Homo sapiens: one gene and its partner. The protein of the gene in region 1 interacts with the protein of each later gene in a pairwise test. Each region holds a gene or a part of one and is shown in the gene's direction. Other genes may lie near its edges.

The links. The genes of interacting proteins can lie anywhere in the genome.
Region 2: the proteins of LRRC41 (region 1) and MYO9B interact in a two-hybrid assay, tested with the Homo sapiens proteins (one large-scale study listed by BioGRID and IntAct).

The regions. Positions count from the first base shown.
Region 1 is NC_000001.11:46,282,030-46,287,554, reverse strand, and holds part of LRRC41 (leucine-rich repeat-containing protein 41), read left to right. Parts: intron 1-1,055; coding exon 1,056-2,193; intron 2,194-5,525. UniProt on the Homo sapiens protein: Probable substrate recognition component of an ECS (Elongin BC-CUL2/5-SOCS-box protein) E3 ubiquitin ligase complex which mediates the ubiquitination and subsequent proteasomal degradation of target proteins.
Region 2 is NC_000019.10:17,077,558-17,082,665, forward strand, and holds part of MYO9B (unconventional myosin-IXb), read left to right. Parts: intron 1-5,108. UniProt on the Homo sapiens protein: Myosins are actin-based motor molecules with ATPase activity. Unconventional myosins serve in intracellular movements. Binds actin with high affinity both in the absence and presence of ATP and its mechanochemical activity is inhibited by calcium ions.

The DNA.
Region 1 (5,525 bases):
GGCAGTAGGGAGACATTAGGGTTTTAAAGCAGTATGATGTAATTAGTGTTTTACAACACTACTTTGGGGACAGGGAAAGCAATCAGGAAGCTAGTGGTCAGGTGTGAGGTGATAAGGGGCTGGTGGTGGTAAGAATCAGAAGTTGGAGGCCAGGCGTGGTGGCTCACGCCTGTAATCCCAGCACTTTGGGAGGCCGAGGCGGGCGGATCATGAGGTCAGGAGATCGAGACCATCCTGGCTAACAGGGTGAAACCCCATCTCTACTAAAAATACAAAAAATTAGCCTGGCGTGGTGGCGGGTGCCTGTAGTCCCAGCTACTCGGGAGGCTGAGGCAGGTGAATGGTGTGAACCCGGGCGGCAGAGCTTGCAGTGTGCCGAGATCACGCCACTGGACTCCAGCCTGGGCGACAGAGTGAGACTCCGTCTAAAAAAAAATGAAGTTGGGATAAGGGGCTAGGTGCGGTGACTCACACCTGTAATCCTAGCACTTTGGGAGGCCAAGGCGGACGGAACACTTGAGGTCTAGAGTTCAAGACCAGCCTGGTCAATATGATGAAACATACAAAAATTAGCCAGGTGTGGTGGCGGGCGCCTGTAATCCCAGCTTCTCTGGAGGCTGAGGCACGAGAATCACTTGAACCTGGGAGGCAGAGGTTGCAGTGAGCTGAGATCACACCACTGCACTCCAGCCTAGGCTACAAAGTGAGACTCTATCTTAAAAAGAAAAAAAAAATTGGGATAAGGTTCTAGAAACAAACATGGAAGAACTTACAGGGGTGAGTGTTTCAGTGGAGACACTATAATAAAAGCATGGTCTCTGGAACCAGATTTCCAGGGTTCAAATAATCCAACCACTTACCTGTGTGGCCACCTCTTTGTGCCTCGGTTTTACCTGTAAAATAGGGCTAATAATAATACATACCTCAGAGATGTGAAGATTAAATGAATTTGTAGTGTTGCCTGACTCAGTAAATAGTGTGCTATTGGAAGAGAGGGAAATTTGGACAGTTTCATGGATATATCATGGCTGTCTGGCATGTTTTCTGCGTTTCAGAGTGTGACATGTTGGCGAGCCAAGTTTATGGAGGCCTTTTTTTCCCATGTTCTACGTGGGACCATTGATGTGTCTTCTGACAGGCGTCTTTGTGATCAGCGGTTCTCACCTCTTCTGCACAGCTCCCGCCATGTCCGACAGCTCACCATCTGTAACATGCTGCAGGGTGCAACCGAGCTGGTGGCTGAGCCCAACCGCAGGGTTCTGGAGACCCTGGCCAGCTCCCTGCACACTCTCAAGTTCCGCCACCTGCTGTTCTCTGATGTGGCTGCTCAGCAGTCACTTCGGCAGCTGTTGCATCAGCTCATTCACCATGGGGCTGTCAGTCAAGTGTCGCTATACTCCTGGCCTGTGCCTGAGTCAGCCCTTTTCATCCTTATTCTCACCATGAGTGCTGGCTTCTGGCAACCAGGGCCTGGTGGCCCACCCTGCCGCCTCTGTGGAGAGGCCTCCCGAGGCCGGGCCCCATCCCGAGATGAAGGGTCCCTCTTATTGGGCTCACGTCGGCCCCGCCGGGATGCTGCTGAGCGATGTGCTGCAGCCCTGATGGCCAGCCGGCGTAAGAGTGAAGCCAAGCAGATGCCCAGAGCTGCACCTGCCACTCGGGTAACACGCCGGAGCACACAGGAGAGCCTGACAGCAGGCGGAACAGACCTTAAGAGGGAGCTGCACCCCCCAGCCACCTCCCATGAGGCTCCTGGCACCAAGCGGTCACCTTCTGCTCCAGCAGCCACCTCCTCTGCCTCTTCTTCTACATCCTCATACAAACGGGCACCAGCTAGCTCAGCCCCACAGCCTAAGCCCCTAAAGCGTTTCAAGCGAGCTGCAGGGAAGAAGGGTGCTCGCACCCGTCAGGGGCCTGGTGCAGAGTCTGAAGACCTGTATGACTTCGTTTTTATTGTGGCTGGCGAGAAGGAGGATGGCGAAGAGATGGAGATTGGGGAAGTGGCTTGTGGAGCTTTGGATGGATCAGATCCCAGCTGCCTGGGGCTTCCAGCACTGGAAGCTTCACAAAGATTCCGCAGCATCTCCACCTTGGAGCTATTCACAGTTCCACTCTCCACAGAGGCAGCCCTGACACTATGCCACCTGCTGAGCTCCTGGGTGTCACTGGAGAGCCTCACACTCTCCTACAATGGTGAGCACCCTGGAGTGGCAGGGATTGGGCTTAGATTGCCTAGCAGCACCAGCTGTGTGCCTAATTCTAGGGAGGTGGGAGGGGCAAATTGGGGGTATGATCAGGAGGTTAGAGAGGAAGGCTTGTATGCCTCATAGCAGGGGAGACTGTCATTGCTAGAAGAGAGGAACATAAAGTCTATACACTTGATTAGTTGTTGAAAGCAGGGGTTCCTGAGGGGCAGTGAGACAAGCCAGCTGGAATCTGAAGAATGAATACATTTTAGATATGGAAGGCAGTCCAAGGGCAGGTGGGAGCAGTATAGTATATGCATGCTCAGGCAGGGCTAGAGTTTGACCTCACCACCTCACCAGTCATATCAGAGTAGCTGTCCAGACAAGGTGTGGGACACAATTTCTTATCAGACCAACAACCTGCAAAGCAGTCCTCAGTCCTCATTTCCCTCCTGCTTGTGACCAGCTAGCAAAACCTCAACTCTGGCTAAATCCAGCAATCCGCCTAGGTTGCTGAGCACTGCTAGAGACAAATCATACAACTATGCAAATCAGTGTTACTATATGATCACTAACCTCGTATGAACCTTCACTGTGCTTGCAACATCAGCTCCCATTCCTACCACTTCCAAACTCTCCTTTTCCCTTCTCAGGGATGACCTCACCTACTTCACAGAGAAAATAGAAGCCATCACACATGAGTTTCTTTAGCTTGCTAAGCAGCCTATAAACTCTCCATCTGCACTCATCCTTCTTTACCAGAATAGAAGAGACCACCATCCTTTCTAAGGCTAATTCTCCCACCTGTGCTCTAGATGCATAGAGCTTCACAACAAAGTATATAAAAATTACCAGTTTGAGAAACAAGCATTCTACCTTCTTAGGGAAGCTTGTTTCTCAAACTAATTTTTATATACTGCTTAGTATGTGTCTGGCATATTTTAAGTATTCTTGATAATTTGATCTAACAATCCTCACAACCCTATGAGGGCAAGTGACTTCCTCAGGATAACCTAGCAATTATAGAGCTAGGATTCAAAACCCAGGCAACCAGACTGCAGATTCATGCTTTCAAACAACTATGCTACTCTCCTTTCCACCGTCTCTCTCCTATCAGCATTTTAACAGGTCTCCATCAAAAACTGCCACCACCACCTCCCTCTATGCCATATTAATAAACTGTTATCTCCTGTTCTTCACAACCTTAGTTATCTGTACTGTTTCCACTTCTCTTACTCACAGCCCCTTCCAGCCTCTTATACCCCTACCACTGCACTGGCAAGGACCTATGTCATCAGGGTCCTCCTTGTTACTAGATCCAATGTATACTTTTCAGTAACTCTTCTTGGCAGGATTTACTGCTGTTCATTAAATTTTTTTTCACTACCTTAAAAAATGTTTTCTTGGCCGGGCGCAGTGGCTCACGCCCGTAATCCCAGCACTTTGGGAGGTCAAGGTGGGTGGATCACGAGGTCAGGAGTTCAAGACCAGCCTGGCCAAGATGGTGAAACCCCATCTCTACTAAAAATACAAAAATTAGCCAGGCGTGATGGTGGGCGCCTGTAATCCCAGCTACTCAGTGACTGGAGATCGTGCCACTGCACTACTGCACTTTAACCTGGGCAACAGAGTGAGACTCCATCTCAAAAAAAAAAAAAAAGTTTTCTCCTCCTCTGTTTATTCAGAGTTCCTCAGAGCTTTCCCACTTTATGCACGCTTCTTGGACAATTTCATCCATTCCTGTGGTTTCAAAGGCCAACTATGCTAAAGACTCCCCATTATGTGACATTACCCCAGATCTTTCTCTTGAACTTCCAGACCCATTTATCCAGCTAGTAGACATGACAACTTCATAACCCACAATACCCCACCCAACTCATTACATCCAACTTGAATGCATTTTTATATTTTTAGTAAGGACAGGGTTTCCCCATATAGGCCGGGCTGGTCTCGAACTCTTGGCCTCAAGTGATCCACCAACCTCGGCCTCCTACAGTGCTGAGATTATAGTCATGAGCCATTAAGCCCAGCCCTATCTTTACAATTTGTTAAATACATTTATTTCTCTATCTCCACATCCTTAATTCAAGCTACCATTACCCACTACCTGAACTAATTTCAGTAGTTCCTCCGGACTCCTTACTCTTGCCATACAAATCCATTATCTGCACTGCAGCCCAAGCATCCTTTGAAAAATGCAGTCTTGATTCTTTAAAAAAATCAGTCAAAAATGACCCTGTCATTCATTTATGCAAACACCCTTCAATGGCTTAATTTTACTTAGTGGTCATTCATATTCTTACTCCTGGTTATCTCTATAGTTGTATCTTTTTTTTTTTTTTTTTTGACAGGGAGTCTCTGTTGTCACCCAGGCTGGAGTGCAATGGTGCAATCTTGGCTTACTGCAACCTCCGCCTCTCGGGTCCAAGCAATTCTACTGACTCAGTAGCTGGGATTACAGGCACATGCCACCATGCCCAGCTAATTTTTGTATTTTTAGTAGAGACGGGGTTTCACTATGTTGGCCAGGCTGGTCTTGGGCTCCCGACCTCAGGTGATCTGCCTACCTCAGCCTCCCAAAGTGCTGGGATTATATAGGTGTGAGCCACCACACCTGGCCTATAGTTGTATCTTGAATGCTTCCCCCCTTCACACTCTCACACCAGCCATTATGAAATTTTTTTGTTCTCCTTCAGGCCTCTACATATGCCAAGTTGCCTCTGCCACAATCATTCTTCCTAAATTTTAGCCTGTCCCCTTTATGTTCTTTAGGACTTAGCTGGAGTGCCTTTACTGATGTAAGCTGGACTAGGTACTCATCCTTTGTAATTTCATAGTACTTTATTCCCCCAGTTCCCATCGCATTATCAAGCTATGTAAGAAAAAAAAGCAATGTGCTGCTCACTAGTGTCTAGCAAAAAACTTGATATTTAGTAGGCACTGGGTAGTTGAATGAATGAACAGGAGCCTGCATAGTCCAAGGAATTATTTGCCTGTGGCATTAAGCAACCAACCTTCCTGGATCCTAGTCCATGCTGTGGGATTTGGTTATCTTTTCCTGCCCCATTCCCACCCATTGATTCTTTTAAGTATCCCAGTTGGGTCACTGTCACTCTCCATAGTTTTTAGGTGCTCCCTATTGCGTCTAGGTTAAACCATCCCTTTGCCTTTCCATAATGTGGCCTCCAGTGCCCTGCCCTCTAGAGCTGTTTCCTGAGCCTCATGTAGCCAAACAAGCAAGCGTCTCATTCATGCCTTGCACTCTCCTAGCTGTGATTTTTTTTTTTTTTTTGAGACAGTCTTGCTTTTTCACCTAAGCCGGAGTGCAGTGGCGTGATC
Region 2 (5,108 bases), on another chromosome or scaffold:
GCAGGGTCTTGTGGGGGGAGCACTGTGTTGGAGATCCTGGCTTTGGTCAAGTCTCTGTGCCTGTTTCTGACCTCTCACCTGCAAAATGAATGAATTGACCTCCATCAGCGTTTTTCAACCTTGAAACCCAACTCTTCTCATCACCGTCTTGTCTCCAGTCCATGTCCCCCAGCTCCCGGCCTTGAACTCCTCACAGCACCCCCACTCTCCATTCCTGGCTGCGATGATCCTACTTTTATTCCGTTTTCCATTCGACAGTTTGTATCCAAAAATGATTTTTTTTCAACCGCTTCTTCATCGTCCAAATAGAAAATTGCGGTGTTGAAGGTGCTTTTGCACATTGCACCTATTCCCAAAGCTTTGGAAACTGCAAATTTCTGGAAATCCCGAGGCAGTACCGTCCCTCGGGTCCAGTCTGGTGACTCAGTGGAGCAGGTAGAGACGTGGGAATCTCCCCTTTCTGTTTGGCTGTAGGATTCGTTATTCTCTCCCCACATGGACTTGTTAACTTGCTGCTTCCCATTCCTCATCTCTTCCAAATGGTGTGTCTTGGGTGGGCCTAGATTTCAGTTAGGCAAGGGTTGATTGTGCCAGACACTTGGTAGATTCCTGGGGACAGAGGTGAATCCTTATGACCCAGAGGACGGACACGCTAATGCCCGCCCCCGACAACTTTGCACTTCCTCTTCAGAAAGAATGGAGTTCAAGCTGGGCCGCGGTGGCTCAGGCCTGTAATCCCTTTGGGAGGCCAAGGTGGGTGGATCACAAGGTCAGGAGTTCAAGACCAGCCTGACCAATATGGAGAAACCCTGTCTCCACTAAAAATACAAAAATTAGCCCGGCGTGGTGATGTGCGCCTGTAGTCCCAGCTACTCTGGAGGCTGAGACAGGAGAATTGCTTGAACCCAGGAGGCGGAGTTTGCAGCCAGCCAAGATTGCGCCATTGCACTCCAGTCTGGGTGACAGAGCAAGATGCCCTCAAAAATAATAATAATTAAAAAAAAGAATGGAATTCAGATCAGGTCATCAGTACGGTGACAGAGGGGCCACAAGATATTATGGGGGGAGAATTAGGGACAACCAATGCAAGCTTTAGGACAAGGGGGATTCCAGCAAGTTTCCTCGGAAGTAGTGGCTGGCCCCAGGTCAAACCTGGAAAGATACCACGTGTTAAACCACTCCGGGTGGAAGGGATTGCACAAGCAGATACCTTTGAAGCCCGGCCTGTACAGGGCATCCCAGCTCTCTCATTCTGCCAACCGGCAGTGCGAGGGTCCTTGTTCTTATCTTCCTGATACAGAAACAGGCCCAGGCAGGTGATGACTTCAGAGATGGTTCCTTGAGCTTTCTAGAAACATGCAGGATCCTTAGTAACCTTTAACTGGGGAAACCCAAATCTCCAGGGCCGTTTCTCACCCGCATCACCATTGACAGTTGGGGCTGTGCACTGTAGAATGTGGAATAGTGTCCCTGGCTGTCACCCATGAGATGCCAGTAGTATTCCATCCCCTCCAAGGGGTAACAACTGAAAATGACTCCAGCCATGGCCACGTGTCCCCTGGGGGCAGAATCACCTCCCCCGCCAGGTGAAATGTGATGCTCATTAGTAAAACCTGGTTCCCCTCTAGGGCCCATCATTGCCTTGGTGGGTCCTTGGTGTTTGTGGAGCCCCTGAGGAACTGCCACTAAGAGTGGGAACAGGGGCAGAGACCAGGAACTGAATCCTGCCATCCAGTCAGTTCTTAATCAGGAGGGAGCGGGTCTTGATAAAAAGGAGGAACCGTTAGGAACGGACTGTGGGAGGGTAGGCAACGTGCCCGAGGGTGGACAGCGGGTGCCCTTGTCTTTTCTTTGTCTTGTGACTGACCTGGATTTCTGGAGGAACTGTCCTCGTCTTAGAATGATCTGTTGCTTTTCTTCTGAGATTAGAGGTATTAGATTCTCTCCCAAGAGCTACTTTGGAGGTTGCCCCGGATAAACGTCGCTTTTGTAAGCTGCATTATCTCTTCCATGGGCCCTTTCGCCCGCCCGTTCCCAAGCACATACTGCTGAATTTTTGTTCTTGGTCCATCTTGCTGTCCCCTTCCCTGCTTGGCCCCCTCCTTGACCGTGACTTTGCTGCTTTACCTTGATTGGAGGAGACGCTCTGGGGCCACGGGACTGACGGTCCCTTCTGGGTGCTGCCCCCACACCCCACCCACCAGCCCTTTGTGTGCCCGGCATCCCCAGCCCAGCTGTGCCAGGCTGCCCCTGCTCGGCCGGCCATTCAGACGGCCCCAGGCGGCCTCTCGGCAAAGCAAGACAAGCCCTTCTCTTCTGCCCTCGTGGTCCCTGGAGTGGCAGAACAAAGGGCTCTGTCTCCACACCAGCCCACCGCCGCAGCCCAGAGCCCCGTTCCCTTTCAATTTCTATCGTGGCTGGGAAAGAGCCTCAGAGATTAGGCATGTTTCAGAAATGCAGCTGACGAGTTTGGGTTCTACTCATTTCCTCAGCGAGACTTTCTGAGCCCGAGCCCGATGATAAATAAAGTAGTGATTCAAGGGTTCAGCCCATGGGTTCGTCGGAGTGATGAATAAGATATCCTTGTCTGACTCACTTGTTTAAAACCCATCTCTGCCCTGCTGCACAGGGCTGTATGTGCAAGAGAAGGAGCCCCGCTAGGGGTGTTTCATGACTGTTGTTGCTGGGTGCCTGAGTTTGCTAGGGCTGCTGTAACAGAACCGCACGCTGGGTGGCCAGAACGACAGAAGTATATTGGCTTGCAGTTCTAGAGGCCAGACGTTTAAGATCACATTCAAGATCAAGGTGTTGGCAGGGTTCGTGCCTTCGGAGGGCTGTGAGAATCTGTTCCACGCCTCTCTCTGTTGGCTCATACATAGCCGTCTTCCCCTGGGTCTTCACATCGTCCTCCCTCTGTGCCTGTCTCTGTGTCCAAATTTCCTCTTATGAGGACAGCAGTCATATGGAAGGGGGCCCACCCTAATGACATCATTTTAACTGAATCATCCCCATAAAGACCCTGTCTCTAGGCGAGGCTTGGTGGCACACGCCTGTAATCTCAGCCCTTTGGGAGGCTGAGGCAGGAGGATCACTTGAGGCCAGGAGTTTAAGACCAGCCTGGACAACATAGCAAGATCCCATCTCTACAAAAAAATACTAAAATTAGCTAGACATGATGGTGAATGCCTGTGGTCCCAGCACTTTAAGAAGCTGAGACAGACAGATCGCTTGAGCCTGGGAGTTTGAGGCTACAGTGAGCTATGATCATGGCACTGCATTCCAGCCTGGGTGACAGAACGACACCCCCATCTCTTAAAAAAAAAAAAAATCCCAAATATACTCATACTCTGAAGTTCTGAGGTTTAGGATTTCAATATGTGAATATTTCTTTGTGGAGGGGAGTGGTGGACACAGCTCAGCCCATAATACTGAGAAAAGGACAAATTCAAATTACATTTTTATTTATTTGTTTATTTATTTTGGGGGCGGGGGCAGAGTCTCACTCTGTCACCCAGGCTGGGGTGCAGTGACGCGATCTCAGCTCACTGCAACCTCTGTCTCCCAGGTTCAAGTGATTCTCCTGCCTCAGCCTCCCGAGTAGCTGGGACTACAGGCGTGCGCCACCACGCCCAGCTACTTTTTGTATTTTTAGTAGAGATGGGCTTTCATTGTGTTGACCAGGCTGGTCTTAAACTCCTGACATCAGGTGATCAGCCCGCTCGGACTCCCAAAGTGCTGGGATAACAGATGTGAGCCACCGTGCCCGGCCTCAACTTACATTTTTAGATAATATAGGAACCTGGAGGGAAATGATCGTGTCAATAGAGAATAGGTCCATTTTGTCTCTTCTCACTCCTTTAAATAAACACTTTAAGGGTGAGCAGGTTGGTTGGCCACATCAATTTTGGACGCTCCCTGTTTTCCAGATCTCACACTCATACATTCAGGGGTGACTAAAGAGAGGTGAGAGGCCTGGTGCAGTGGCTTACGCCTGTAATCCCAGCACTTTGGGAGGCCGAGGTGGGAGGATCACCTAAGGTCAGGAGTTTGAGACCAGCCTGGCCAACATGATGAAACCCAGTCTCTACTAAAAATACAAAAATTAGCTGGGTGTAGTGGCACACACCTGTAATCCCAGCTGCTTGGGTGGCTGAGGCAGAAGAATTGCTTGAACCCAGGAGGCAGAGGTTGCAGTGAGCCGTGATCTTGTGCCACTGCACTCCAGCCTGGGCAAGAGAGTAAGATCCCATCTCAAAAAAAAAAAAAAAAAAAAGAGGCGAGGACCCAGCCCAGGGCGGAGTGGGTCCCATGGGATTTTACAGGGGATGTGTTGAGGGCCAGGTCCACAAGGCTGCGTGTGCCTGGTGGGGAAGCAGGATGAAGTTTACAAACAGGGCATGGGGCGGGGGTATATCTCTGTTCTCAGTATTGCCAGGGTCAGGGGCAAGGAATATCCAAAAGTAACTACACTCTTGGACCCAAGTGACCTTAGGACCAACTGCTGTCACAAGTGATTGAACAAAAGAAGTTTCTGGAAGGTCTTAAAATCCTTCAGCAAAAAGGAAGTATTGGCTGGGAGCCAGGCTCAGAGCTGGCCCTTGGGGAGACTGAGGAGAACAGAAATAGCCCTCGCCTCTGTTCAGATGTTCAGCCAGGAGTCACGAGCATGGAAGTCAAATTAACAGCCCAGTGGGGTCTGTGAAGGTGCCGGCAGCAGGCGAGCCTGTGACGGGAGCCTGCCTGGCCTGGGGACTCGCTTATGGGGGAAGTGGGAGACCTGAGAGCTTCCCCAGTCAGCCGTGCCCTGGGTCTTCTGCCTGCGAGGTGGGCACCGCTGCTTCCTCACGAGTGAAGTCACAGCAGCACAGCAGCAGTGGGAGGCTCAAGGCTTTGCTGTGGATCTTCCTGGGCTCACTGCTCAGAGCATCTCCACGAGGAGGCGTCTGCCACCTCCTGCATCCCATTCCAGGGCAGACGAGATCGGGGGCAGGAGGGTGACATTTGAGATTTTGATTCCCAGGGTATGGGTACTCACGTGGGGCTTTAATTTCCTGGTGAATGTGCCATGGGGGGCAAGGGGTAGCTTGCCCACTGCTTGGGAAGACCCC